Linked DNA regions of Homo sapiens: region 2 is linked to region 1. The links come from fine-mapping of genetic effects on gene expression. Tissue or cell type: whole blood. Region 1 holds a variant in brackets; the other region holds the start of a gene. All regions are shown on one strand. Distances are between the middles of the regions.

Evidence for each region. PIP is the estimated chance that this variant, and not a neighbour inherited with it, causes the effect.
Region 2: it holds the start of KHDRBS1, and the variant in region 1 is fine-mapped to the expression of KHDRBS1 in whole blood (TOPMed, PIP 0.90).

What each region holds. Positions count from the first base shown.
Region 1 is chr1:32,040,409-32,048,512 of GRCh38, forward strand. It overlaps KHDRBS1 (KH RNA binding domain containing, signal transduction associated 1), which reads left to right. Exons shown (of 9, transcript NM_006559.3): 9 at 2,119-3,469. The coding sequence ends at 2,216. Among named protein-coding and RNA genes, the nearest start is that of TMEM39B, 28 kb to the right of the region's middle. RefSeq lists an enhancer at 4,021-4,904. The variant C/T (reference allele first, on the strand shown) is at 3,393.
Region 2 is chr1:32,009,194-32,017,297 of GRCh38, forward strand. KHDRBS1 (KH RNA binding domain containing, signal transduction associated 1) reads left to right here and starts at 4,675. Exons shown (of 9, transcript NM_006559.3): 1 at 4,675-5,184. The coding sequence starts at 4,803. RefSeq lists silencers at 4,884-5,093, 5,574-5,683 and an enhancer at 4,910-5,480.

The DNA.
Region 1 (8,104 bases):
TCAAAAAAAAAAAATAGTGCCTATTAGAATCAGATTAGAGGCTGTAGGGGCTAGAGCCAATAATTCAGGACAGTACTGGCACCAAGCTCCTTGTTGGCTTGAAGACATCAACACAGTCCTTGATCCCAAGAGAGCTATGGAGGCTGCAACAGCAGCAGGACAAGGCTGCCTTCCCTGAGGTTTGGTTAAAAACACATCGCTCAAGTGTGTCCTCAAGAGCCAGTTATGGCCCTGTGTTAATAGGCCTCACTGGGAATACTATGTGGCAGTGGATGCAGCGAGAGCTACCTTTTCAGTATAAGGTATTTTCAGCATACCTGAGGGACTTCCAGAGAGTCCTTGGCAGGGGCTCAGCGATTGACAGTTCACGCTAAGATACTGGTTGACAGTCTCCCCTTATCCCTAGCTGAAAAAGAGGAGCCCCTTAGGGCCTCCCAGAGACAGACAAGCTGAGCCCAACTCAGCACAGTATGAAGTAGCCAATCAGCTGCTTGCCCAAGGAAACTGTTTTTACCAGTTTTAGCGAAATAGCACTGGACAGTTGCCAATCACTAACACTGTGTGTGATTGCACCCAAGTATTTCCCTCCATCAGTGAGGCAGTACAGTGGGGCCTCTGTATGTGTTTGACTAAATTGCATTTCTGTTTTGCTGGAGAAAAGACCAAACTGAAAGAGGCAGGCTTCTCTTTGTGCTCCTGATACGACGTTGCCACAGTTAATCCGTTCTGATCTCTGCTTTGATTAACAGAATTAGAGAAATAAACTGTCCAGGATGATCTGTATACGTCAGGAAAAAAAGAAAAAGAAACTGTCTTGTTGATACCCAGAAGCCACTTGGAAAGTGATGGACATGTGTGTTATACTAGGGGTATAATTAGGGTTCTGTGTGACTTTAGATCTGTATAGGAGTTTGAGGCCTATAGAGATGGAGGCAGATACTTGTGAATACAGGCAGCTGGAAAAATACTTCAGGGATGAACTAGCGTGTGTAAGGTGTGGGAAGAATAAATTTAACGCAATTTATTTTCATAAGAGGTCACCTCTAGAATTATGTGATCATATTCCTCAGGCTTTTCCCTGTCACAAAGGAGAACCATTTGAGGATGTGAACCACATTGTCTGGCTTCTGGCTTCTCTCACCTGTTGACTTAAGAAAGGAGATAAGGAATTATCCTTTTTTTTTTTTTTTTTTTTTTTTGAGATGGAGTCTGGCTCTGTTGTCCAGGCTGGAGTGGAGTGGCACAATCTCAGCTCACTGCAACCTCTGCCTCCCAGGTTCAAGCACTTCTCCTGCCTCAGCCTCCTGAGTAGCTGGGATTACAGGCATGCGCCACCACGCCTGGCTAATTTTTGTATTTTTAGTAGAGATGGGGTTTCACCCTGTTGGTCAGGCTGGTCTCGAACTCCTGACCTTGTGATCTGCCTGCCTTGGCCTCCCAAAGTGCTGGGATTACGGGCGTGAGCCACCGCATGCAGCCTTGGAATTATCTTAAACAGTGCTGTCAGTGCAACATTTGATTGCACATCCCTCTACCAGAGAGAGCAGTATCAGCTCTGCTGGTGGAGGGCCCCATGGAAAGTGGCCCTTGCTTGGTTTTCCCAGGGAGCTAGAGGACACTTCTCCGTAAGGAAACGTGACTTGCTGTTGCATGGAAGTGGGGCTGGCTGCCTGCTTCCAATCTGAAAGACTTCCAGAAGTCTTCCCACCTTACCTGAGGGTGCCTGCCAAATTGTTTTGGGAACAGGAAAGGCCATTGCAGACTCACTAAGATTAATGAGTTCCTCACTATCTCAAGCAAGGTGTTGGGTATCTCCAGGTTTGGGGACTGGCGTACAGATCACATTTGTCTATGAAGAACCTCGTTGTGGGAGATTACTCCAGAGTCAATGGCAGCCTTTTTAGATTTGTTCCCTTCTGTCCTTCCACTCAAAACTGAAAAATTGCCCAGGCTGCCCAAGAGGGCCAAGCCAAGTAGAGAGCAAGGAACACCAGGGGAAGTGTCAAGACATTAGAAGAAACTCAGTGTTTTTGGTGATCTTTACTATGTGACCTATCCCTGCTTATCCCTAAGTGCTGTCGCCACATGGTTTATAAACTGTCTTTGTTTTCCCCACAGGCCAGGACGACTGGAATGGGACCAGGCCGTCGCTGAAGGCCCCTCCTGCTAGGCCAGTGAAGGGAGCATACAGAGAGCACCCATATGGACGTTATTAAAAACAAACATGAGGGGAAAATATCAGTTATGAGCAAAGTTGTTACTGATTTCTTGTATCTCCCAGGATTCCTGTTGCTTTACCCACAACAGACAAGTAATTGTCTAAGTGTTTTTCTTCGTGGTCCCCTTCTTCTCCCCACCTTATTCCATTCTTAACTCTGCATTCTGGCTTCTGTATGTAGTATTTTAAAATGAGTTAAAATAGATTTAGGAATATTGAATTAATTTTTTAAGTGTGTAGATGCTTTTTTCTTTGTTGTTTAAATATAAACAGAAGTGTACCTTTTATAATAAAAAAAAGAAGTTGAGTAAAAAAAAAAAACACACAAACCTGTTAGTTTCAAAAATGACATTGCTTGCTTAAAGGTTCTGAAGTAAAGGCTTGTTAAGTTTCTCTTAGTTTTGATTTGAGGCATCCCGTAAAGTTGTAGTTGCAGAATCCCAAACTAGGCTACATTTCAAAATTCAGGGCTGTTTAAGATTTAAAATCACAAACATTAACGGCAGTAGGCACCACCATGTAAAAGTGAGCTCAGACGTCTCTAAAAAATGTTTCCTTTATAAAAGCACATGGCGGTTGAATCTTAAGGTTAAATTTTAATATGAAAGATCCTCATGAATTAAATAGTTGATGCAATTTTTAACGTTAATTGATATAAAAAAAAAAACAACAAAATTAGGCTTGTAAAACTGACTTTTTCATTACGTGGGTTTTGAAATCTAGCCCCAGACATACTGTGTTGAGAGATACTTAGAGGGAGGGAGTAGGTTTTGAAGAGGTTGATGGTGGTGGGGAGGGAAGGCCTCCTGAATTGAGTTTGATGCAGAGCTTTTTAGCCATGAAGAATCTTTCAGTCATAGTACTAATAATTAAATTTTCAGTATTTAAAAAGACAAAGTATTTTGTCCATTTGAGATTCTGCACTCCATGAAAAGTTCACTTGGACGCTGGGGCCAAAAGCTGTTGATTTTCTTAAGTTGACGGTTGTCAATATATCGAACTGTTCCCAAGTTAGTCAAGTATGTCTCAACACTAGCATGATATAAAAAGGGACACTGCAGCTGAATGAAAAAGGAATCAAAATCCACTTTGTACATAAGTTAAAGTCCTAATTGGATTTGTACCGTCCTCCCATTTTGTTCTCGGAAGATTAAATGCTACATGTGTAAGTCTG[C/T]CTAAATAGGTAGCTTAAACTTATGTCAAAATGTCTGCAGCAGTTTGTCAATAAAGTTTAGTCCTTTTTTAATCAAAGTAAATGTGATGAATTGTCATTTTTTTGGGTGGACCATAAAATAGTTTTCTCTTTCAAATAAACTTAAATTAACTCTAAAGTTAATGGGCTTGTTAAAAGTTGGAAACATTCTTAAAAGTGGTGGGGGGGATTTTATTTTAAGTTTACCAAAAAAAAGTTGATGGAGTTGTTAAGTTTTAGTTTAAAAATAACCAAAGCTTTTTCACCCCCTGGAAGTTGTTGGAAGCTGTTGTATCCAATCCTATCAAAAATTCTAATTTATGGAGAGTTTTCAACTCAACTGAGCTGAAACTTGGATTGGTTTCCATAGATAGGTCTCAGTATTTAAAAGTGCAAGCCAGCCTGGTTTGCACCTTCTGTAGAACCCCTAGGTGGCTCTAAAGTGTGACACCAAATAATTTCTGTGAGCTCAGAAGGGGACAGCATCTGCCTTTAGGCATGACAGTTCAGCCAACTCTGGGTGCCCTTGAGGGTTTCTCTTTCAATCCCAGAAATGCTGATAACTCAGCTGGGCTGGGGCAGGATTTGGCATGATAGGCTGGCTCTGAACCCCCTCCTAAGAGACCAAGAGAGGAAGTGATGGAATTGGTTGGTCCCATTTCAACTCTATGCTGATTCTCAGGGTTCTCATGGCTTCCCTAAGAGAGCCACCTAAACTGCTCGGGGGTGAAAAATCCTCTTGTATTGAAGTGCCAAGCTGCCTGCAGCAGTGCATGATGGACATTTTTTTTTTCTTTTTAAAACACACCAACAAAAAAATGTATTTGTAGATTGTGATAAAATGTAAATAACTGAATTTTCAACCATGGTTTGAAGTCAGCTTTCAGGGCATTATGTCTTGTTTTGATGAAAAGAGATCACTCTATACCCCCCTTTTTAAAGGAAAATTATCGCAAGAGAATCAGGATGTGTAAAGCTAACATGCATCGCAAAAAACCAAAGGTAACCTAAATGTCTGATTTTAATAGCACATATTTCTCTTTTACATAAACTGTGACAGCAACTTGCATAAACAATTCTTTAGCTGTTAATTTTAATGTTAAAACTTTGCAAAACTTGTTTAATAAAAATAGCTGTAAAAAGAAAAACCATATGTTGCCGCATAAATTAGCCATAACTCTTAATAATCCTGCCCATCACAAGTGAACTGTAACGTAACCTGGGCACAAAGTCTGACATCTTAAATGACACATTGTAAAATTTCAATGACTGTAGATTAGACCTCCTGCTGCACCCCAAAAGCTTTCTGCTCAGCTATTTAAAACTGTGTAAGGATGAGTCCCTGTAGGTCCCCATATTGATATTCACAATGAAACTTTACTTAAAATTTCTTAAAAGTTGCATGTTTCTCCTGTAATGTGTAAACTGCATGCAGGATCTCTTTATCTTTTATTTTGTATGTCTTTAAAACTTCCTCTTCAAAAGACTGATCTGTTATTTCTCCATTTTCAGGTGACTGAAAACTCCTGAGGCATTTCCTGGACTAGAATGGGTAGTGAAGACCCATGTCAGGTATGTTAAGGTGGCTTTCTATTAAGGAACATGGGCCTTTTATCATAACTGTAAAACAGTTATGCTAGGAGGTGGCCTGTAAGGTGGTCAATGGGTTAATCTTTTTTGTGGTCATTTGTACCTTATTTACGACATGACCACACTTACATGTCCATACTGAATTTACATCTAGTGGTTGATAAGGCCAGACAATATCAACTTAGATCTGTTGAATCCCACTCTGTTTATCCTGTTAATAACCTGATGAGGTGGTGTTCCACTTGGAGTTCATTGGTTGCAAGCAACAAAGTGGCTAATGTAAATGAAAAAGACTTTATTAGAAAGGTGTTAAGGGCTCAATGTTCAGTGCGAAGGATAAAAAATCTGGTGTGGGAACTGTAGTGGCTGCAGGGAACTGGGACAACAGTGGTAGACCACAGGAACGATCTTGAAACAAGGACTGGCTCCTTGGGCACAACTCAAACTATGTTGGGTCTCTTTCTGCCTCTACTCAAGATTCAGGTTTTAGAGAGGGAATATCAGACTGGATTAGCTGAGTCACATGCGTAAGAAAAACCAGTTCCTCAAAAGGCAGTTGGTGAGTTGTTAGGAAAGGGAAATGGATGCTGGGCAGCCCAGAAACAATTGTCCAGTAATATCCATATTTTACAGAAGTAACTTAGACCTAGTGAAGTTAAGTAACTTCCCAGGGTCCCATAATTAGTATGGCTGGTACTCAAGCTCAAGATTTCTGTTGCCAAAACCTGTCATCTTAATCCTATACTATACTGTCCTTAATCTAGGGAAAGGGTATTTCTTTTTTTTTTTTGGTTTTTTTGGTTTTCTTTTGTTTTGTTTTTTTTGAGACGGAGCCCTGCTCCATTACCCAGGCTTGGCTGCAGTGGCGCAATCTCAGCTCACTGCAACCTCCGCCTCTGGGTTCAAGCAATTCTCCTGTCTCAGCCTCCCGAGTACCTGGGACTACAGGCACCTGCCACCACGCCTGGCTAATTTTTGTATTGTTTAGTAGAGACGAGGTTTCACCTTATTGGTCAGGCTGGTCTCGAACTCCTGACCTCAGGTGATCCACCCACCTTGGCCTCCCAAAGTGCTGAGATTACAGGCGTGAGCCACCACACCCGGCTGGGAAAGGATATTTCTTATACTTAGGAGGTCCTTCATAGGGATAATTGTGGTATAGAAGAAAGGATGTGGAGTTTGACTCCCTGGTTTGTGTAGTTGGGGGCTGTGACAACAGTGAGCTTTCCTGTTAATTGAAGCCATTAAGCAACTAACTGGCTGATTTTTTCTCTGCTCTGAGGTGTTAGGATTAGGATGACACTGAGGAGAAAGGCCTAACTAGGTAAGCCCTACGCATATAGAACCTTTCACAGTGAAATTTGGCTTCTTGGAATTTCTTTTTCTTCCAAGCCTGCCTCTCAGCCTGTGAGAGATCTGGAAGCTTTAAGAGAGGGGCATATGTACTGAACAAGATTCTGGGCACCTGGCAAGTCCTACGTTTGATGTTGGTCACATGAATGGCTAGGAAATTTAGCGTGGGGAATCCCTGAATGCAGAGAATTTAGTCTCAACTCTTCCTAGGGTAGTCTGAAGAAGAAAAATGGATTAGAAGTTTGGGGAAACCTTTCATTTGGACTGTGAACTGTGCTTGGAAAGGCAGGTTCTGTTTGTGGACCTAGGCCTGCTGGTGTTCTGCCTGTTCTGGACATGTAGCTTCGCCCATTGATCCAAGTGTTTTCTGTAAAATTCTATCACTCACTACCTGTGAACTTTATTTATTTATTTTAAGGTGGAGTCTCACTCTGTTGCCCAGGCTGGAGTGCAGTGGTGTGATTTCAGCTTACTGCGACCTCCACCTCCCGGGTTCAAGCGATTCCCCTGCCTCAGCCTCCGGAGTAGCTGGGATTATAGGCACACACCACCACGCCTGGATAATTTTTGTATTTTTAGTAGAGATGTGGTTTCACCATGTTGGCCAGGCTAGTCTTGAACTCCTGGCTTCAAGTGATCCGCCCACCTCAGCCTCCCAAAGTGCTAGGATCACAGGCGTGAGCCACTGTACCCGGCCAGCCTGTGAACTTTTATTACAATTCTGTAAGCTTTAGAGACAGGCAAGATTGGGTATCTGTCCTGGCTCTGCTTCATGTGAGCCTTTGTCACCTTAGTCAGAAACAAAACCCTTTCAGTGCCTCATTTATCATCAAATGAAGTTGATGATAATACCTGACATTTATCACTGTATGCATCATAATATCCTAACAGAGTTAGTAAGTATCTCATTTGGTCCCTTTCTACCTTTGTTTCTGTTTTGAGGAAAAATTCACATAGCATAAAATTTACAATTTTAAAGTGTACAATGCAGTAGTTTTTAGTATATTTATACTGTGCAACCATTTCCACTATTTAATTCCAGAATATTTCCATCACTCTAAAAACAAATCTTATATCTGCTAATAGTCACTCCCAACTCCCTTCTCTCCCCAGCTGTTGGCAGCCACTACTCTTTCTGTGGGTTTGCCTATTCTGAACATTCCATATAAATGGAATCATATAATATATGCTTTTTGGAATTGGCTTCTTTGACTTTGCATAGTGTTTGGTTCATCCAGGTTATAGCATGTAACATAGTACTTCATACTAGTCATAGGAAACATTACTTCCAAAAGCAGCCCATTTCATTAGAGATGGCTCTAAGTATTTTATCTCTCATTTTGAATGAGACCTGTACCTCAGTAATTTAAACTGAATCTGCTTTGGACCTCTGAAGCAACATCCTTTCAGGTATTTGAAGATCATTTTCATTACTGTGTCTTTCCCTTCTCTAAAAATTTTCTTGGCTGCGCATGGCAGCTCATGCCTGTAATCCCAACACCTGGGGAGGCTGAGTTGGGAGGATCACTTGAGGCCAGGAGTTCAAGACAAGCCGGGACAACATAGCAGACTCTGTCTCTACAAAAAGTTAGCTGGGCATTAGCTGGGCATGATGGCTTGCACCTCTTATCCTAGCTACTCAGGAGGCAGGGGAAGGAGGATCACTTGAGTCGAGGAGTTCAAGGTTACAGTATGCTATGATCACAACACTGTACTCCAGCCCGGGTAGAAAGTTTTTAAAATACTATTGG
Region 2 (8,104 bases), 31 kb before region 1:
CCCTCAATGTGGGCGGGCGCCAGCTAATGGGCTAGGGCCCAGAATGAACACAAAAGGCAAAGAAGGGATTTCCTGTCTCTCTTCCTGGAGCTAGGACACTCTTCTTCTCCTGTCCTTAGACATTAGATCCCCATGCTCTTCAGCCCTTGGACTCCAGGACTTACACCAGCAGCCCCTGGGTTCTCAGGCCTTCATCCTCTAAGCATCACACCACTGGCTTCCTTGGTTCTGAGGATCTCAGATTTGGACTGAGCCACACGACCGGCTTGCCAGGGTCTCCAGCTTGCAGAAGGCCTCCAATGGGACTTCTCAGCCTCCATAATCATGTGAACCAATTGCCCTCACAAGTCCCCTCTTGAATGTGTACATCTATCTATATACTGTATTTATTCTGTCTCTCTAAAGAATCCTGACTAATGCAGCAAAGCAAAACACTGTGCTCAATCACCCAGCAGGTAAGAGGCAGAGCTACCAACCTCCATCTGAACCATTATGCACTGCTGCTGTATCCTATACCATAGTAACTGGATTAAGGGTAGAAGAAACTTGCTCTTTTTGGAACCTCCTCCTCCCCCCAAAACAAGCCTAGCTATACTCAGTGAAAATTATACAGATTAGAGAGTAGGACTTGGCCAGGCGCGGTGGCTCATGCCTGTAACCCCAGCACTTTGGGAGGCTGAGGCGGGCGGATCATGAGGTCAGGAGATCGAGACCATCCTGGCTAACACGGTGAAACACTGTCTCTACTAAAAATACAAAAAAATTAGCTGGGCATGGTGGTGAGCTGTAGTCCCAGCTACCCGGGAGGCTGAGGCAGGAGAATGGCGTGAACCCAGGAGGTGGAGCTTGTAGTGAGCTGAGATCCTGCCACTGCACTCCAGCCTGGGTGACAGAGCAAGACTCCATCTCAAAAAAAAAAAAAAAAAAAAAAAAAAGGAGAGAGAGAGTAGGACTTTCAGATCCATAGCCAACATAAAGCACCCACAAATCTTCATCAGGTACTAAAGGGTATAATAGTGATTACTTCTGTTTATAAGCCCTACTATCAGGAGGTTTACACTGATATTTGTTAATGTTCACAATAAGCCTTCAAGGTAGATGGCATTACCCCACTTTATAGAAGAGAAAACTAAGTTTCAGAGGTCTTCCAAATGATACACAGTGAGGACAAGGCATTGCCGGGTTGTTTGAATTTGCCCCACTCCAACGTTAGTCTTTTCACATGGTTGTTAACCTTCAGGTGGACCTGGGGCAGCATACTGTGGTGAACACAAAATAAACTCCAGACTTCTAGGCTTTCAGAGCAGAAATTACTCTTCCCTACCCTGAGAAGGGCCCCCAAAATAGAAGGCTGCTGCATCACTTAGTGGATACATACACCGCAACCTCAACCACTCTTGGCCTGAGATTACCTTTAGGGTTCTCGCCTGGAAGAAGAGCACATCTCTCCCGCTCAGCCTACTCTCAGGGAAAGCAAGTAAAGATCTGGCAAGCACCCAGAAAGACTGAGGGTTATTTTTTGTTTTGTTTCCAGTGTTTTTAAAATTGTATATAGGTATGGCTACAACATGTTTTGATATACATATGCAGTAACTGTTGATTCTAGTCTAGAAAGGCCATAGATACCACTACCCAGCTCCTTCTCAGACAAACCTTTATCAAAGTTTTATTAGCCTCAGCTCAAGGGATCTCTATTTGGGCATCTCATTACAGGGCAAGGACGCTTCAGCCATTTGTAACACCACCACTCAAGAAGGATCTTCAAGGGTGGCAGTGGAAATGAGTTGCAAAGGAACTGTAAATTCTCCTTGCCCCTTCCCCCCTCTTCATGCAGTTGCTCTCTCAACCCACCTATTCCTTCAAGTCTGACACTGGATTACTCCCATTCCCTGAACACATTTCCCACGTTCTCATCTCTGCTCATTTATTCCACTTCCCTTTGCCTGGAACTTATTCTTCCTTGGCCAAAATCTATCTTCTGCATTGAACTCCAACAGCACTTAATTTTTTCGTTTCTTTTTTCTTTTTGACACGGAGTCTGACTCTGTTGCCCAGGCTGGAGTGCAGTGTGGCGCGATCTCGGCTCACTGTAACCTCCACCTCCCGGGTTCAAGCAATTCTTCTGCCTCAGCCTCCCAAGTAGCTGGGATTACAGGTGCATGCCACCACGTTCAGCTAACTTTTTTATGTTTTTAGTAGAGATGGGGTTTCACTGTATTAGCCAGGCTGGTCTTGAACTCCTGACCTCAGGTGATCTACCCACTTTGGCCTCCCAAAGTGCTGGGATTACAGGAGTGGGCCACCGCACTGGCCTTTTTTTTTTTTTTTTTTTTTTTTTTTTTTTTTTTTTTGAGACAAGGTCTCACTCTGTCGTCCAGGCTGAGTGCAGTGGGGCAGTCGTTGCTCACTGTAGTCTCAATTTCCCAGGCTCAAGCAGCAATCTTCCCACCTCAGTCTCTCAAGTAGCTGGGGACAACAGGTGCACGCCACCACACTCAGCTAATTTCTTTCTTTCTTTCTTTTTTTTCCCAAGACAGAGTCTCGCACTGTCCCCCAGGCTGGAGTGCAGTGCTGCAATCTCAGCTCACTGCAACCTCCGCCTCCTGGGTTCAAGCGATTCTTCTGCCTCAGCCTCCTGAGTAGCTGGGACTACAGGCACACCACCACACCCAGCTAATTTTTGTATTTTTAGTAGAGACGGGGTTTCACAATGTTGGCCAGGATGGTCTCGATCTCTTGACCTTGTGATCTGCCCGCCTCGGTTTCCCAAAGTGCTGGGATTACAAGCATGAGCCATCGCATCTGGCCTATATTTTATATTATATATATATAATTTATGTAGATACGTGTTTTGTTTTCATTTCTGTGGGTAATTTGGAAATCCTCTCCCTTAACCCCTTAAAGAAGGCCTTTAGGTTCTCTAGTTAAAGGGTTCTAAGCTTCACATCCAAAAATCAAGTTTCCAGGCACTCAGAAGACAATTTCCAAATAAACCTTTTTTTCCTTTTTTTTTTTTTTTGAGACGTAGTCTCGCTCTGTTGCCCAGGCTGGAGTGCAGTGGCGTGATCTCGGCTCACGGCAGCCTCCGCGTCCCTGGTTCAAGCAATTCTCCTGCCTCAGCCTCCCAAGTAGCTGGGATTACAGGTATGCACCACCACACCCGGCTAATTTTTATATTTTTAGTAAAGATGGGGTTTCATCATGTTGGCCAAGTTGGTCTCGAACTCCTGGCCTCAGGTGATTTGCCCACCTCGGCCTCCCAAAGTGTTGGGATCACAGGCATGAGCCACCAAGCCGGGCGGAAACTTTTTTTATTGTAGAGATGAGGTCTCATTATATTGTCCAGGCTGCTCTCGAACTCCTAGCCTCAAGTAATCCTCCCACCTAGGCCTCCCAAAGTGCTGGGATTACAGGCATAAGCCACCGCACCGGTCCCCAAAGACTTTTGAAAAGTGTGGGCTCATTAGGAGAACTAATCCAGAAGGAAAAGAGATGGGAGTGAGTGCTTTAAATGGAAGAAGAAAATAATCTGCGGAGGGAAGGGAAAGTTAGAGAGGGCACCAGGCTTTTGATGGCTTATGGGACAAGTAGGGACCTAAGGCTCCACTTGCATATAGCACACCAGGATGTGGAGAACGTCGTAGGCGACTGTCCACTATGTACCTTGCCTTTGAGAGTAGTGGCAAGGGTCTCTTTGAGCAAGTCTGGAGTGGTAGAAGAAGCCATCCTAATGATGCAACCAACGTGGATTAAGGATCTGGTCTCTACCTCACTTTTTGAAGGAAGAAACACTTAATTGGCAATAATGACGGCGAAACAAAACAAACACAATTCAGAAAAAGCAGTAAAATATGTAAAAAGAGCTAAAATGCTGCTTAAGATTTCCCGTACCAACAATGTCAACCGTTTTAGAACCGACTGGAATATATGTAATACTGGAAATATATATACTGGAAACAACTTCTTGTGTTCCCTGATGTCTGGGACCCTTTTCTTTGCTAGACTTCAGATCTCTGATCTGAACCATCCCTCTTAGTTCAAGTACTCCAATCGCCTTCAGTGTTTCCACCAAGCCGTCCTTCCTCAATTTCTCCCTCCAGGTTTCCCTTCCCCAACTTTCCCCCTGCATCAGACTCTCCCTCAGCCTTCCTTTCTCCCTGTGCAGTCTGTCTCACTCCTGTCTTCCTCCCCAGGCGGTCTCAATTCTCTCTCCCTCCCCTTTCCGTGACCCTCTCGGCAGTCTTTTACTTCCTTACTTCGGTGACCGCCCCCCACCCCACTCCCCACAGCCTCCCTCCACTGCTCAGCCGTTGGAGAGGGCGTGGCCCCGCGAGTAACAGGTCTCCCGCCCCACACTCCGCGGGCCCGCGCGCAGACAAAGACATTCCACAGCTCCCGCCCCCTCCACGCCAGAAAGGGGAGGAGACACGTGTTCCGCTAGCGCCGAGTCACGTGGAAAACGAAACGAACGGAGCCCACTGCCTCCCGCGCATGCGCATCAAGCTCTGGCCTGGCGGGAGCGGAGGGAAAGCCAGAGTCGGGAGGCGACTTCTCGGACGCCGCGGCGGTGCGCAGGCGCCGTGGCCGGACTGGGGACTTTGTTCTCCGCGGAGAAACCCAAGGGCGGTGCCGGTGGCTGGCTGCGCACGCGCGCCGCCTCATTTCCGGTGCTCTCTCTCGCTGGGTCGCTCGGGTCGGCTTCGGTCGCTACCGCTCCCGCTCTGCCACCCCCGCCAACCGCCGCTCGGGCCTCCGTCGCTGCCGCGTCGCTTTCTCGCTCCTTGGATCGCACATCCTCCCAGATGCAGCGCCGGGACGACCCCGCCGCGCGCATGAGCCGGTCTTCGGGCCGTAGCGGCTCCATGGACCCCTCCGGTGCCCACCCCTCGGTGCGTCAGACGCCGTCTCGGCAGCCGCCGCTGCCTCACCGGTCCCGGGGAGGCGGAGGGGGATCCCGCGGGGGCGCCCGGGCCTCGCCCGCCACGCAGCCGCCACCGCTGCTGCCGCCCTCGGCCACGGGTCCCGACGCGACAGTGGGCGGGCCAGCGCCGACCCCGCTGCTGCCCCCCTCGGCCACAGCCTCGGTCAAGATGGAGCCAGAGAACAAGTACCTGCCCGAACTCATGGCCGAGAAGGACTCGCTCGACCCGTCCTTCACTCACGCCATGCAGCTGCTGACGGCAGGTAAGGGGGCCTCCCGTGTCCCTCTGGGTCGCCCGGCCATCCCGGGCATGAGTGGCCCTGGCTTTGTTCCTCTCGCTTCCCGCCCCCTCGGGACCGAGGCAGTCGGGAGTTCCGGTCTCATCCTCATTTTTGGGAGCCTGGATTCCACATTCCCACCTCAGCCCGGAGTGCGTGGGAGAATTTCTAGGCTGCAGTGGAGGCCCGAAGGCGACTTTGCGATCCCCTAGCGCTAATGTCTTGATGGATAGTGCTGAGCTCCCCGCCCCTTTCCCGACTCTTCCCTCCTCCCTCCTCTTGCGGCTGCCGGGCGCGCAGATTCTTCCAGAAATGAACCTTCATTTCCCCCTTTCCCTGAAGGGAAACCCTTTTTGATCGCGGGTGGCGATGAGCGCCTCGACCGAGGTGTAGGAGGTGAAGACAGCCAGAGCGGGGAGGGACCGTGGGAGGAAGGGCCGAGGTGAGGTGGGGTGAGGCTGGAATGCCCTGTCCAGTGCCTTGCTGTCGCTGGGGCCGAGCCGGACTTAGCGGTAACCGCAGCTTAAGTTGCTGGGAGGAAGGAGCGATTTATGTGGATCGGAGCTTGAGGTTTCCGAATCAGATTTCCGACTAAGGCTGATAAAATAAGAATTGCTACTGAGCCATTTTACACCGTGTGTTCACTGTCGTTGAAGGAGTGAAGTAACCCTAGAGACAGTGAAATGGGACGATAGGGACTCCCGCGTAGTTCACATGACGTTTCCCAACGAGATGGACAGAAATTGAGAGAAGTTGCATGATGCTTGTACTGAAAGGCTTGGCCTTTTTGTTGCTGTTTTTTACATTTTTGATTCAGTAGTGAAATAGATTAGAAATGAGAGTCTTTGTTCTGTAGGTTAGCGCTCTTTTCCTCATCAGCACTGGCCAATCACCTAGTCGCTCTGATTTTTCCCTAAAGCTGTCTGACTTTCGCTTCTAGTTAAAATATTATTTTAATATTTTTTATGATACCTAAATTTTACTAAGCAAGTAAAAATTCACATCCTTCAACACTGAATGAGTAGTTGGACTCTTTGGCAAGGTTAATATAATGGACAGTTCATTATGAAAATATTATCTCCCTCCCTTTGTTCTCTGTCTCCCAACACTGTAAGGTAAGGGATCTTTACCAGTGTGGTGTTCATCTTTTATGCTTTCTTAAGATAACTGTCAAAAACTGTTGATCCTTAAAAGTTACTTTTAATTTTCAGTCTCCCCTCACTGCTTAACTAAGAGAGTGCTCTTTATTTTTAACTTGGGCTTTCTGGATGTATTTTTTTTAAACCCAACTGAAATTGGAGAAATGTGATTGAGGTTACTGTTGGTTTGGGATGTATGAATTCTTTCTAGCATGGATAAGTGTTAATATATGTTGAGCCTGGCTTTTAAGGTATTTCTGAATTATCTTGCAAGGGGATTGCAGTGAAGTCACAACCCATTGTGCGGAAGTGAGACTTTGAGAAGATAGAATAGTAGTATTTAAGCTCTGGTAAGATCACATGGAAGGGGCAGGCGCGGTGGCTCACGCCTGTAATCCCAGCACTTTGGGAGGCCGAGACGGGCTGATCGCGAGGTCAGGAGTTGGAGACCAGCCTGATCAACATGGTGAAACCCCGTCTCTACTAAAAATACAAAATTAGCTTCGCGTGGTGGCGCACGCCTGTGATCCCAGCTACTTTGGAAGCTGAGGCAGGAAAATCACTTGAACCTGGGAAGCGAAGGTTGCAGGGAGCCCAGATTGCGCCATTACACTCCAGCCTGGGCAACAAGAGCTAAACTCCATCTCAAAAAAGGAAAAAAAAAAAAAAAAGAAAAGAACACACGGAAGAAAAATATAGCTAACACTTAATGTTTGAGGTCTGAGCACTTTACATTAAATATTTAACCTATAAAATGAAATGAGAACTTACTTTTATTATCCTCACTTATACAGATGAGGAAACCAAGACACCCAGAGATTAATAATTTGCCTAAGGTAACAAAATTAGTAAGCATCGTAACCAGGATTTTTGGTCAGTCTACACACCTTCCCCGTTCCCTCACTATAGTGCCTGCTGCAAATTGTACTTTAAGCTATAGTTGGACAAAATATTAAAATCTATCTGGGATGATAGGTGACCAAAAAAAAAAAAGTATATTTGAAAGTATCACAGTGTTAACAGGGCAGTGAAGATGATAAGGCTAAGATACAGAAAGGAAACCAGAGAGCAGAGTCTACTGCTTGGGACTGTGGCTCCTCCAGGCACCTTTGACCATTCCCAATAAGGTACCGTGAGACCCTGAGCACTCTTCCTGTACCACCTACACAGCTCTCCTCTTCCTTTCCTGGGTTTACTTTATTTTTCACTATCAGCATCTGTTGCACTATATTGTCGTTATGTACAGTATTTGTTTGTTGATTACCCATTCTCCATGGCTAGAATGTCAGCTCCACCAGAGCGCAGGAATCTTTTGTCTACTTTGTTCACCGTTGTATCTTCTATGCCTTGAAGAGTGCTGCACAGAGTGGCCTCTTATTAAATATTTCACGAAATAATACATATTCACCTTCATTGAAGATGGGACTGATGAAAAAATGATGACAGCCGTGCACGGTGGCTCACACCTATAATCCCAACACTTTGGGAGGCTGAGGCAGACGGATCACTTGAGGTCAGGAGTTCAAGACCAGCCTGGCCAACATGGTGAAACCCCGTCTCTACCAAAAATACAAAAATTAGCCGGGCGTGGTGGCACATGCCTGTAATCCCAGCTACTTGGGAGGCTGAGGCAGGAGAATCACTTGAAACCGGGAGTTGGAGGTTACAGTGAGCCCAGATTGCACCATTGCACTCCAGCCTGGGTGAAGAAGCAAGACTCCGTCTCAAAAAAAAAAAAAAGACAAAATTTTGAGGGATGTAGATTT